Linked DNA regions of Homo sapiens. The protein of the gene in region 2 purifies or fractionates together with the protein of the main gene of each other region. This does not show direct contact. Each region holds a gene or a part of one and is shown on either strand. Other genes may lie near its edges. The genes, in order: TPR, PTPN4 and SIPA1.

Region 1 (3,652 bases), on a different chromosome or scaffold from region 2:
ATAGTAAATTTGATTAGTAATATATTTAGTTTATTGGATGTAGCTGAAATAAAACATTCTCTACTTTCACAGCACAGAAATACTTGAATAATTTACTGAATTCTAACATTTGTCAAGATAAGAATCTAAGGAAATATGCAGGTAGCAAAGTTTTACTGAACACCTACTGTGGAGTTAGGTAAAGGGATTAAACAATAAGAAGCTGAGATTTTTGCCCTTGAGGAGCTCAATGTAGTGGAGTAAAAAGCATGTATACCACAGAATAAAATACAAAGTTGTAATTGCTGTAATGAATAACAAGAGTGTCATGGGAAAAAATTGAAGAAAGCAATGAAATGGTCAGTTTCAGTGAGAAAGCAATGTTGGATTGAGCCAGTAATTCAGTATGATTTTCCAAAGTGGATTTCATATATTCTTTGTCATTACAAGTGAAAATTTTGGTCCTAGAAGTATGTCCTTCAAATATTAAACACCCATTTTTACAATGACGTGACTTCAGCTGTAGTGGATGCTTCATTTGTCTTTGAAATTACTGTCATCTTCTCATAATAAATCTAAATAAGCAGTCTCATCAGATCTGTATTATTTTACTAACCTTCCTGTGATTCCACTTGTGTAGTGGGCATCACTGTAGCTGTTGGGGTAGTAGTGGGATTTGTAACAGTTGCAGGTGTAACCATTGGGCGGATACTAGCCCTGGGTGTTGACTTATTTCCAGCCATAGCTGCAGCTGTCACTTTACTTGGAGTAGACACAACAGGAGTTGGCTTGATATTGGCTGTTGGTGGGTCTGATGTGCTGGCACTTATAGAGGAGAAAATGGAAGAATAATTAATAACAAATTATTATGCAAATACTTTTAAAAACACAGTGAGTATAGGTCTCCATTTTTTTGTTCACTAAATATTTCAGAGCCTTATTAAAGCTGTTTTGAATTTAAGCATTAAAAACTACACAGGGAATGCTCCAGAGTGGTGCATCCTGACAATGTAAAATGTATCTAGCTGTTGAATTGCTGAACCCAAGTCTCAGCCCAGCATTTTCTATCTGTCATCATGTAACATCACGGGGAAAATCAGTAGCAGCCTAACTTAGAAACCAACTGTAAACTAAAAGATGAGAGACGTTTTCTCTGTCACAAAGCTTCATCTGATAGGACTGAAAGTATGGTGAAAACAAGCTGGCAAATACATGATACAGTTCTGCAGAGAAAACAACTCTTTAGTGTATGTTTTTACAATAGAATACACAGATTTCTTTTTCCTAAACAGAAAGATCACTAGATATTCCCTGAGCTTTAAAAGAAAAATAACAGACTATGAAATAACTAAAACTCACATTCCTCTTTCACCAGAAGCTGGAGTTGTTTTCAATGTGATCTGTCTCTGCTGTTCAGGGACCTATAAAGAGAAAGCTCTTGATTGTTGTTCCTAGCCCACAAGAGTCCACTAAAAATGCCACAAAAAAATTGTCATTATTGTTAATTCTCTCCGCATATATTGAATTTTAGCCAAAATTCACTGACAAAGGCTCCTATATCACCAAGCACTTTCAAGTAAAATGTACAAAGAAAAACAATTTGTTACTTAAGCAGAATTAGCTAATCACCTTATTAGAAGGTTCTTGAGGCTCATCTCTCTGCTCAAGGTGTCTCTCTTGATGCTCCCTGAGTTCTCTTTCCAAGCGACTAATTCGACCTTCATATTGGGACTTTAGCGCAGTAATGCGAACATCCAATTCATCTTTCTGCTGATCTAAGGCTCCATTCCTTTGTTTAAGCTCCTCATTTTCTTTAGTTAGCTGATCTTTTACACCTAAAGAAGTAACCAGGCGATTATATTAATATTATAATCAAACATTTAAAACAGCATTTATGCACTTAATTGGCACATGGTCACATCAGATTCTACTACTATAACATCTACATTAGTTATGATACATCATACATCTCAATGAGCAAAGTTCTAAGTACATTCATGCTTTAACTTATTACTAGAATATAAAATATACTTACTCCAACATAAAAATTTACTTTTTCCTAACTAAAATCTCAAAAAGCTAAAGATCCTAGTTAACAGAAGCCCGTTTATATTTCAATGTATCATGCAATTCATTACTATGAATTGCAAAATTTTTATTTCATATAATCTACAGCACTGTTTAAAAATAATTCAAGAACTTTTAAAATCAAGTAAGTTGTTAGGACACTGTCTTAGAGATCATTTTAAAAAAATGCCTGTAACAAAATCCAACTGATTTGACATTTTATTTAACTACTCAGCAGACTGATAGGCAAGGCTGAATAAAGCCCTGAGCCTTGAAGAACTAGGTTCTTCATAAATTTGACATGATACTCTCCCTGAAAAGCTAGAGGGGTCCTCCACCAAACGAGGCACAAAAAAATCCCTGGGCTGGTAAAGATCTTTATGCAGTCTACATAAGGTTTCTAGACAGCACGGTCTGGGCTCAAAGGATCTCTGTCACAAGATAGAATTGTTATCCATGAAAGCAGAAGGATAGCAGTATTCCATTATCTACTGCCAGCCAACAATTGAGAAAAATTTCATCATATCAAGGATATCCTCATCACTTGAAAATTAGGATTGCTCTTTGTGTCCAACTAATTATTCCTAATATTTAAAGCACACATACACACACAAACACCCTTCATAAGTAGATACCTTTTATTTCTATTCCATTTAGTTTTAGGCCTGCAACACATAATCAACTTTCACTACCAAGTTCAAACTTTAAACAGATATTTACCAGCTAAGTGTGCAATTTTTGACTTTGCTGCTACAATAGCCTTTCTGGTTTTTTCTTCCTTTTCAGTTATCTGTTGTCGGAGCTGCTCCTCCTGTGTGGTTCTATCTTGAAGATCCTGACGAAGTCGTGAAAGTTCAGACTGAAGTTGCACAGTCTGTTCCTGGAGATTTCTTGCTTCTGTCTCTTTTTCAGATAATGTCTTTAAAGGAAAACAAAGTATTCACCATGGAATTCAATCATTTCAATATAAACTGTATGTGGTAGCAACTTAAAGTATAACTTATTAATTTGCTTTTTAAAAGATTAAATGGAAGTATAAGTATAAAAATGGTGGTCAGACCAACTAAATGCACACTTGAAGATGATTGGGTACTACTTACATACATGAGCCATTCAAAGTAAAAAGAATAAAATGTATCCATTCCCACATGGTAAGACAAAGTGTCAGTAGTTAACACATATTTCTTTAGGTGTATAACAGGAAAGAATTAGGAACAGACTGTTCTCACACTCATACCTTCTGCAGATTCTCTACTTGACTTTCAAGTGATTTTGATTTTGTTTCAGCTTGGTTGAGCGTTTCTTTGAGTTCCTGCATTTCCTGGACTGAAACATGCTGCTCCTGATGGTCTCCAGAGGACTGAGCCGATGTCTCCATAACCTAAGACAACAAACAGTAATAATACACTCACATATTTATATTCAGTAATTCCATTTCTGCAAGTTTGTCTAAGAAAATAATCACAGCTTTGCAAAGAAATTTTATCCCTGAAGGTATTCAAAACAGAATTTTCTATGAAACAACTGTAATCTCCAAAAATGGGGAACTAGTTATGGTTTTCCACATAACTGAATACTAAACAGCTAATCAAAATGATGCATTATA
Region 2 (3,652 bases):
TAAATAGATAATAAATGAAAGATGCTTTTCTATATGTAGTTTAGTTCTCCTGCTATTGGGTCTATTAAAATAAATTCCTGTGCTCTACTTTCAGAAAGTTGCATGCCAATCTGAAACCTTATCTATATTATATTACAGGCTGACCTCTGTGTCCCTAGACTGAATGAAGGGGACCAAGTTGTACTGATCAATGGTCGGGACATTGCAGAACACACTCATGATCAGGTTGTGCTGTTTATTAAAGCTAGTTGTGAGAGACATTCTGGGGAACTCATGCTTCTAGTTCGACCTAATGGTGAGTACTCTATGTAGTACCAGATAATTTATAGTAATTTATTACTGTTCATTACTGAGCACAGCAGCCAGATTTCTGACATAAAACATAAGTCACCTAAGTTTCCTGCTCAAAGCACAGTGGCTTTCATTGACACGTGGAGCAGAATTCAAGTTCTTTGCCCCCCCACCCCTTGCTCCCACTCAGCCTTGCTTACTTTCCTCTATTCTACACTAGCTTTCTTGCAGTTACTCAGATCTTCCAATCTAATCGACTTATTAGGGTTTTTATCCTTGCTGTTCCCTGTGCTGACATACTCTTTTTGATTTTGTTATGACTTATACCTATACTTCATTCAGGTCTCTGCTCAGATATCATCTTCAGAAGGGCTTTCTCTCCTGACTACCATAGCTAAAATGGTCTCCCATTTCCCCTAAATGGTAATAGTTGTAGTACTAGTACTCAATAAATACTAGTTGAATGAATGAGTAAATTTGAACTCTGTTCCACTTTTAGAAAATGCCATAACAAGCTATAGTTAAAGTGTTTTTAAAATACTGCCTTTGTTTTCAGTATATGATGTCTACTTGCCTAATCATGTCATCTCCCAATCTGGACAGCTGACTTGTTAATTCATAGTCATAGAATTCCAGGTTTGGAGAAAACTTGAATGCCGTAAGCTCTAGCTCTTTGGCTAATTGCACGAATTTCCTCCACAACAACCTCAAGAACATTCTACCAATATAGATAGAGCACTTTGTGGCTCCTGAAACAGGTCATTCCATCTTTGGATAGCTCAAACTATAAATTGAACTAAAAGTCCATCTTTCTTCAGTCCTGCTCCTAAGTCTGTCACTCTGTGCTATGCATTATAAGTTTAACCCCCTTTCCTTCAGTTTTTTGACAATAGCTAATTTTACCAGAAACCCACCTCCCTTTCTCCAGTTTAAGAGTCCTAGAGTCTTCAGCCAGTGTTCATATGGCATTGTTTAGAGTTCCCTCAACACTTTATCAGTCTGCTCTAAGAAAAAAGTTTTATATGTCTAATATCCCAGGATTAGACATATTCTTCTGGTTTTGTTCTATACAATTTACTATTAATCATTATTTTAGCCACAGAATAATTATTGTTAATGCCATATTACCACTTGAATATGTACCATAGGAAAGTGAAATATCATTCGAATTCTACTTGTCACCACCACACCCAACCCTGCAAAATTTTGCAAGGATATTTCTTTTTTGTAAACAAAAAATAAAAAATCCTCTTTGTACCTCTTGTTCACAAATAGGCGTTTTCATTTTATCTTCTCCACTTTGTGTTCTTTTCCATTAATGGTCTAGAATTGGCTTTCTAGGAAGATTAAAAGGACTTCAACAGAACATTCTATTTTGACTTTTCAAGGAACTTGTTCATTTAGACTTGATACTTAGGTGAGTCATTAGGTGTTTTCTGTCACATACAGCTACTTAAATTTTAAACCAGGAATAACATTTTTTTCTGTATTTATTGTATTATATTTTCTCTTGATAATAGATCCTAAAGAACTCAATAATATTAGCTAATAGTTATTAAAAACTTTCTGTGCACCTAGGCTCTTTTGTATATTTTCATTTAATCCTCATAGACATCCAATGAGATTGATGAATTATCCCCATTCTAGAGCTGAAGATACTTTGACACCAAGACATTCAGTTACCTGCTCACAGATTCATGACGCCACAGAGCCAGAATATGAACAAAAATCCATATGATGGCAAAGACCCAGCCTTTTTACAATTCCAGATCTCATCCTTTTGCTTTATAGTATGAGAGGAACCCACCAGGGTCTACTTCTTGCAAAATATCTTTCTAAATTGTTTCATAGTCAAAATACGGAGCAGAACCTGCATCTGTTTTCAGTGTGGGTCTGTCTTTTCCATTCTTAAAGTTTCATATAATTAAAATTTAAAACTGTGTTTGCCAAGAATATATTTTTGTTTTTCTGATCTTTTCTCCTTTAATTCTTATTTCTTCTTAGGCAAAATGTTGTCATACCTTTTTGTCTTTTCATTCTTCATTTCAGAAATTTATTTTTCTAAAAAAATGTATAGATATTCAAGGAGGAACCAGATCTCTTAGGCAAGGGTAAAGAGGCCCCTACCTTGGCTCCATGTTTTAGAAGGCCCTGCTTTGGCTCTCTTTCTTCTCCCAGTGGAGTCATAATTTTATAGGACCAAAAGGACATGCCAAGCTGTAACCTCCCTTCCCTTTCTATACCACTTTTTTTCAAACCTCAGTTCTGGGTCCAGATAACCCTGAGCCTCTCCAGATCTTCATGGGTATTTTCCACACATCCGTTCTCTCAAGGTGGGTTCACATGGTGTGTGTATCCTAGCCCAGAAGGTGGCTAAGAGGCTACAGTTTGTGGAGGGACAGGTATAGATATATCTTGCATGTGGGCTGGGATCTTCACATGTATGTTTATAAGCCCCTATGTTAAAAAATGGGACTGAGAGTGGGTAACGGTAGAATACAGGCCTAGGATCTAGGGTCTGAATCTCCTCACATTACCATGACCATGAATTCTGGCCTAGAATTCTCATTTATAGTCTGGCCTCCCAGGTTGTTTTGTAGATACATCACAGAAAGAGGATGAAGCATATTTTGTTTAGCACTGTGTTCAAGTTTTTTGTAACTTCTCATAGTTAAACATATGGTATATAGGTCTCTATTTGTACTCTTGCCCTAGGTCCCCTACAAATTAAGAGCGGGTGTATTCACAGCTGCTTCTCAGCAGCTCTTCTTTCTTACTGTCTCTTCAAGTTATAGACATTTTCAGCAATGTAGCCAAGAACACTTCTTCCCTCCAAAGGTACAGCAAAGCCCCTCAACTCCACAACTAGTTTCTGTCCCCCCATAGTGACACCAGACTCAGATCTGGTGTAATTCTTCACAAATGAATTATTTTTTGAACAAAACATTATACAGTGTATCTGGTAAATTCCTATCGTGTGAATTCATTAAGATTTCCACGTTTTGGGGTTTGTTTGATTTTTTTTTTTTAGCTGTATATGATGTAGTGGAAGAAAAGCTAGAAAATGAGCCAGATTTCCAGTATATTCCTGAGAAAGCCCCACTAGATAGTGTGCATCAGGATGACCATTCCCTGCGGGAGTCAATGATCCAGCTAGCTGAGGGGCTTATCACTGGAACAGTCCTGACACAGTTTGATGTAAGTAATATCATTATATATTAAAAGCATTTTGCTGATATTTGCTAACTAGTTTCATAGTTTCTTAAGTGCCTAATCTGTGCATTATAATTTCTAAACTAAAATGATATTCTGAGAAATGTTTGACATAAAGAGTTCTAAAATGCCAAGTTTTAAAAATTGC
Region 3 (3,652 bases), on a different chromosome or scaffold from region 2:
CTGGGCATGGTTATCCAGTTATCCGCAGAGGGAAGAGCCGGGAAGAGGGCACAGAAATGGGAGCATGGGGGGCAGAGGTGGTGCCTGGCCTGCAGGGGCTGGGGTGGGGGTGCCTTGGATTCAGGGGTGCAGAGGACAGTCCAGCCTTGAGATAAGGAGGATGATAATGTGTATGTTTATTGGAAGGGTCCTTTCTGTGAATCACCTTCTCTACTGCCACATGGGAACCAGCCTCCTCCCATCCCTTCCTACCTGTGCACTCCCAAGCACGAGGAGCACAACAGACTGTACTCACCTGACAGGCAAGGGCACAAGTGGCTCAGAGAGGGCTGGTGCTCAGCCCCAGGCCAGCGTCCCATCCATTCCCTAAGAGCTGGTGGGGTGGGGCTGCAGGGGACTGAGACCTATGCCTTCTGTCTCCCACCCACAGCTGAGCTTCCAACGCAAGGTGGGCATCCTGTACTGCCGGGCGGGCCAGGGCTCGGAGGAGGAGATGTACAACAACCAGGAGGCGGGACCGGCCTTCATGCAGTTTCTCACCTTGCTGGGCGATGTGGTGCGGCTCAAAGGCTTTGAGAGTTACCGGGCCCAGCTAGACACCAAAAGTGAGGCCCAGGGGCAGGAGGGGTGGGAGCAGATCTGTGCTGAAGGGGTGAGCACAAATTGCCTTGTCACTCCTTTGTCCGTACAATCCTGGGGCTGGGGACTGGAGAGTTCTTTGGGTGAGCTAAGGATCTGAGTCAGGGCTATGAGGGCCAAGCTATGGGCTGAAAAGAGGGGCTGGGACTGTCCCTCAAGGCCCAAGTACCCTACTGCCTGAGCTGGGGCTAAAGTGGTTTGGGGGCACTACCCCTCCACCAAACACATTCCAGCAGCTCAGCCTCGTGGAAGAGAGGTGCCCCTACCTCCCTGGTGGAAGGGGCCCCAGGACCCCTGGGAGGTGTTGTACTGAGCACCCCCTGCCTGCTTTTCACTTTCCCAGCATGCCACACATGCTTGGGCCTGGAGTGACACCTGTCCTCCTAGGACACCTGACCCTGCCCTCCCTCTGAGACCACTTCTCATTTCTGTCTTCATTCTATTTCAACTCTCCCATCCTGACCCCCCTTCACTCTGGCATGGGGCTGGAGCCTGTGGAGGGAGAGGAGGAGGGGCACCCAGGGCTGAGGCCCTTGAATCTCGCTGGCTGGGCATTGGCTGGTGGCATGACTGGTTGTCCACCTGCTGTTTGGGGCACAGAGGCTCCTGTGTACAGGCAGGAATGGCAAGTTCAAGCCACTTAGATTCCCCTTGTTTTCTCCTTCTGTGTCCCTAACTTCCTGGCCACAGCGGATTCCACAGGCACGCACTCCCTCTACACCACATACCAGGACCACGAGATCATGTTCCACGTGTCCACGATGCTGCCTTACACCCCTAATAACCAGCAGCAGGTGTGAGGGGGACCAACGTGGGGGTGGGGCTTCCGGGAACCATGGAGGGCCCTGCATGGCCCATGACGTTTGAGCTTTGGCCGGAGCTCTGTTGGCCCCAACAGCCCGCCCCTCTGGTGGCCCCTTCCCAAAGACAGAAACACCCTAGGTCTTCACCAGGGGCAGTGGGGGAGCCATTGGTGCCTTGGCTTTCTCCTGCCTGAATGAGGAGGGGTTTGGGGCACAGAAGACCTCATCACGAGCCCCTACTATCCAACCCCTAGCTCCTCCGGAAGCGCCACATTGGCAACGACATTGTGACCATCGTGTTCCAGGAGCCTGGCAGCAAGCCCTTCTGCCCCACCACCATCCGCTCGCACTTCCAGCACGTGTTCCTAGTGGTGCGGGCACACACACCCTGCACGCCACACACCACCTACAGGTGGGCACCGGAGTGGTCCCAGGTCTCCCGTGGGCATGGAGTCCTGCCGCCCCTCACTAACGCCTCCCTCCCCGCAGGGTGGCCGTGAGCCGCACCCAGGACACCCCTGCCTTCGGGCCAGCTCTGCCTGCTGGCGGAGGCCCCTTCGCAGCCAACGCCGACTTCCGGGCCTTCCTGCTGGCCAAAGCGCTGAATGGTGAGCAGGCGGCCGGCCACGCGCGCCAGTTCCACGCCATGGCCACGCGCACCCGCCAGCAGTACCTGCAAGACCTGGCCACCAACGAGGTGACCACTACGTCGCTGGACTCGGCTTCACGCTTCGGCCTGCCCTCCCTGGGTGGGAGGCGCCGGGCGGCCCCTCGGGGCCCAGGCGCCGAGCTGCAGGCAGCGGGCTCACTGGTGTGGGGAGTGCGCGCGGCGCCCGGGGCGCGGGTCGCCGCCGGGGCTCAGGCGAGCGGCCCCGAAGGCATCGAGGTGCCCTGCCTGCTGGGCATCTCGGCCGAGGCTCTGGTGCTGGTGGCGCCGCGCGACGGCCGCGTAGTGTTCAATTGCGCCTGTCGCGACGTGCTGGCCTGGACCTTCTCCGAGCAGCAGCTGGACCTGTACCACGGCCGCGGGGAGGCGATCACGCTGCGCTTCGACGGGTCCCCCGGCCAAGCCGTGGGCGAGGTGGTGGCGCGCCTGCAGGTGAGCTGGAGTGGTAAACTGGGGCCCCTGCGCGCGGCGGGGCGGAGCCTGCTTTGGACCCCTCCCTCCCGCCGCCTTTGTCCCCTACTCCTGCGGAAGGGAAAGTCGAGGAGGGCAGAGCCAGCCCCGGGGCTTGGCAAGGCCGGAACTGGTGCCCTCGGGTAAGCGACTTCTGGTCTTCATCCCTCGGGCGGTGGCACACGCGGCCCTCGGGGACTGTGGAAAGTTCCGTGTGGCCTGGGACGCAGTCCAGGGGGCGGGCGCTGGGGCGGCCCCACCTCCCGGCAGCCCCGCCCACTCGTCCCGCCCCGTCCGCAGCTGGTGAGCCGTGGCTGCGAGACCCGCGAGCTGGCGCTGCCCCGCGACGGTCAAGGCCGCCTGGGCTTCGAGGTGGACGCCGAGGGATTCGTCACGCACGTGGAGCGCTTCACATTCGCCGAGACGGCGGGGCTGCGGCCCGGGGCGCGCCTCCTGCGCGTGTGCGGCCAGACTCTGCCCAGCCTCCGGCCCGAGGCCGCTGCCCAGCTCCTGCGCTCGGCGCCCAAGGTCTGCGTCACCGTCCTGCCCCCCGACGAGAGCGGCCGGCCCCGCAGGTCAGGGTGCCGGGGACGCGGGGAGGTGGGAGGGCCGGCAGTTGGCCACCGCGCAGTCTGCGCCTCCCGGGTCGCCATCAGCAGTTTCAGGAACCCAGTGTGGATACCTTTCCTTCTGGAAAGAATCTCCCGTCTCTTAGCCCGTCTGAGCCTGTCTCTTCCTGTCTCTGTCTCTCTCTCTTTCTCTGTCCTTCCTTCCTCTCTCTCTCCTCTCTCTTTTTTTTTTTTTTGAGACGAAGTATCCCTCTTGTTGCCCGGGCTGGAGTGCAATGGCGTGATTTCGGCTTACTGCAACATCCGCCTCCCAGGTTCAAGCAGTTCTCCTGCCTCAGCCTCCCTTGTAGCTGGGATTACAGGCATGCACCACCACGGCCGGTTAATTTTTTCTATTTTTAGTAGAGATGGGGTTTCACCAAGTTGGCCAGGCTGGTCTCGAACTCCTGACCTCAGGTGATCCACCTGCCTCGCCCTCCCAAAGTTCTGGGATTACAGGCGTGAGTCACCGCGCCCTGAACCTC

What was found.
Region 1: the proteins of PTPN4 (region 2) and TPR purify together in Homo sapiens (affinity purification with mass spectrometry; one large-scale study listed by BioGRID and IntAct). This does not show direct contact.
Region 3: the proteins of PTPN4 (region 2) and SIPA1 purify together in Homo sapiens (co-immunoprecipitation; one large-scale study listed by IntAct). This does not show direct contact.

The regions. Positions count from the first base shown.
Region 1 is NC_000001.11:186,333,730-186,337,381, forward strand, and holds part of TPR (nucleoprotein TPR), read right to left. Parts: intron 3,428-3,652; coding exon 3,284-3,427; intron 2,966-3,283; coding exon 2,767-2,965; intron 1,815-2,766; coding exon 1,609-1,814; intron 1,401-1,608; coding exon 1,339-1,400; intron 805-1,338; coding exon 596-804; intron 1-595.
Region 2 is NC_000002.12:119,951,835-119,955,486, forward strand, and holds part of PTPN4 (tyrosine-protein phosphatase non-receptor type 4), read left to right. Parts: intron 1-138; coding exon 139-295; intron 296-3,322; coding exon 3,323-3,489; intron 3,490-3,652. UniProt on the Homo sapiens protein: Phosphatase that plays a role in immunity, learning, synaptic plasticity or cell homeostasis. Regulates neuronal cell homeostasis by protecting neurons against apoptosis.
Region 3 is NC_000011.10:65,644,525-65,648,176, forward strand, and holds part of SIPA1 (signal-induced proliferation-associated protein 1), read left to right. Parts: intron 1-430; coding exon 431-605; intron 606-1,329; coding exon 1,330-1,433; intron 1,434-1,696; coding exon 1,697-1,854; intron 1,855-1,931; coding exon 1,932-2,541; intron 2,542-2,859; coding exon 2,860-3,134; intron 3,135-3,652. UniProt on the Homo sapiens protein: GTPase activator for the nuclear Ras-related regulatory proteins Rap1 and Rap2 in vitro, converting them to the putatively inactive GDP-bound state. Affects cell cycle progression.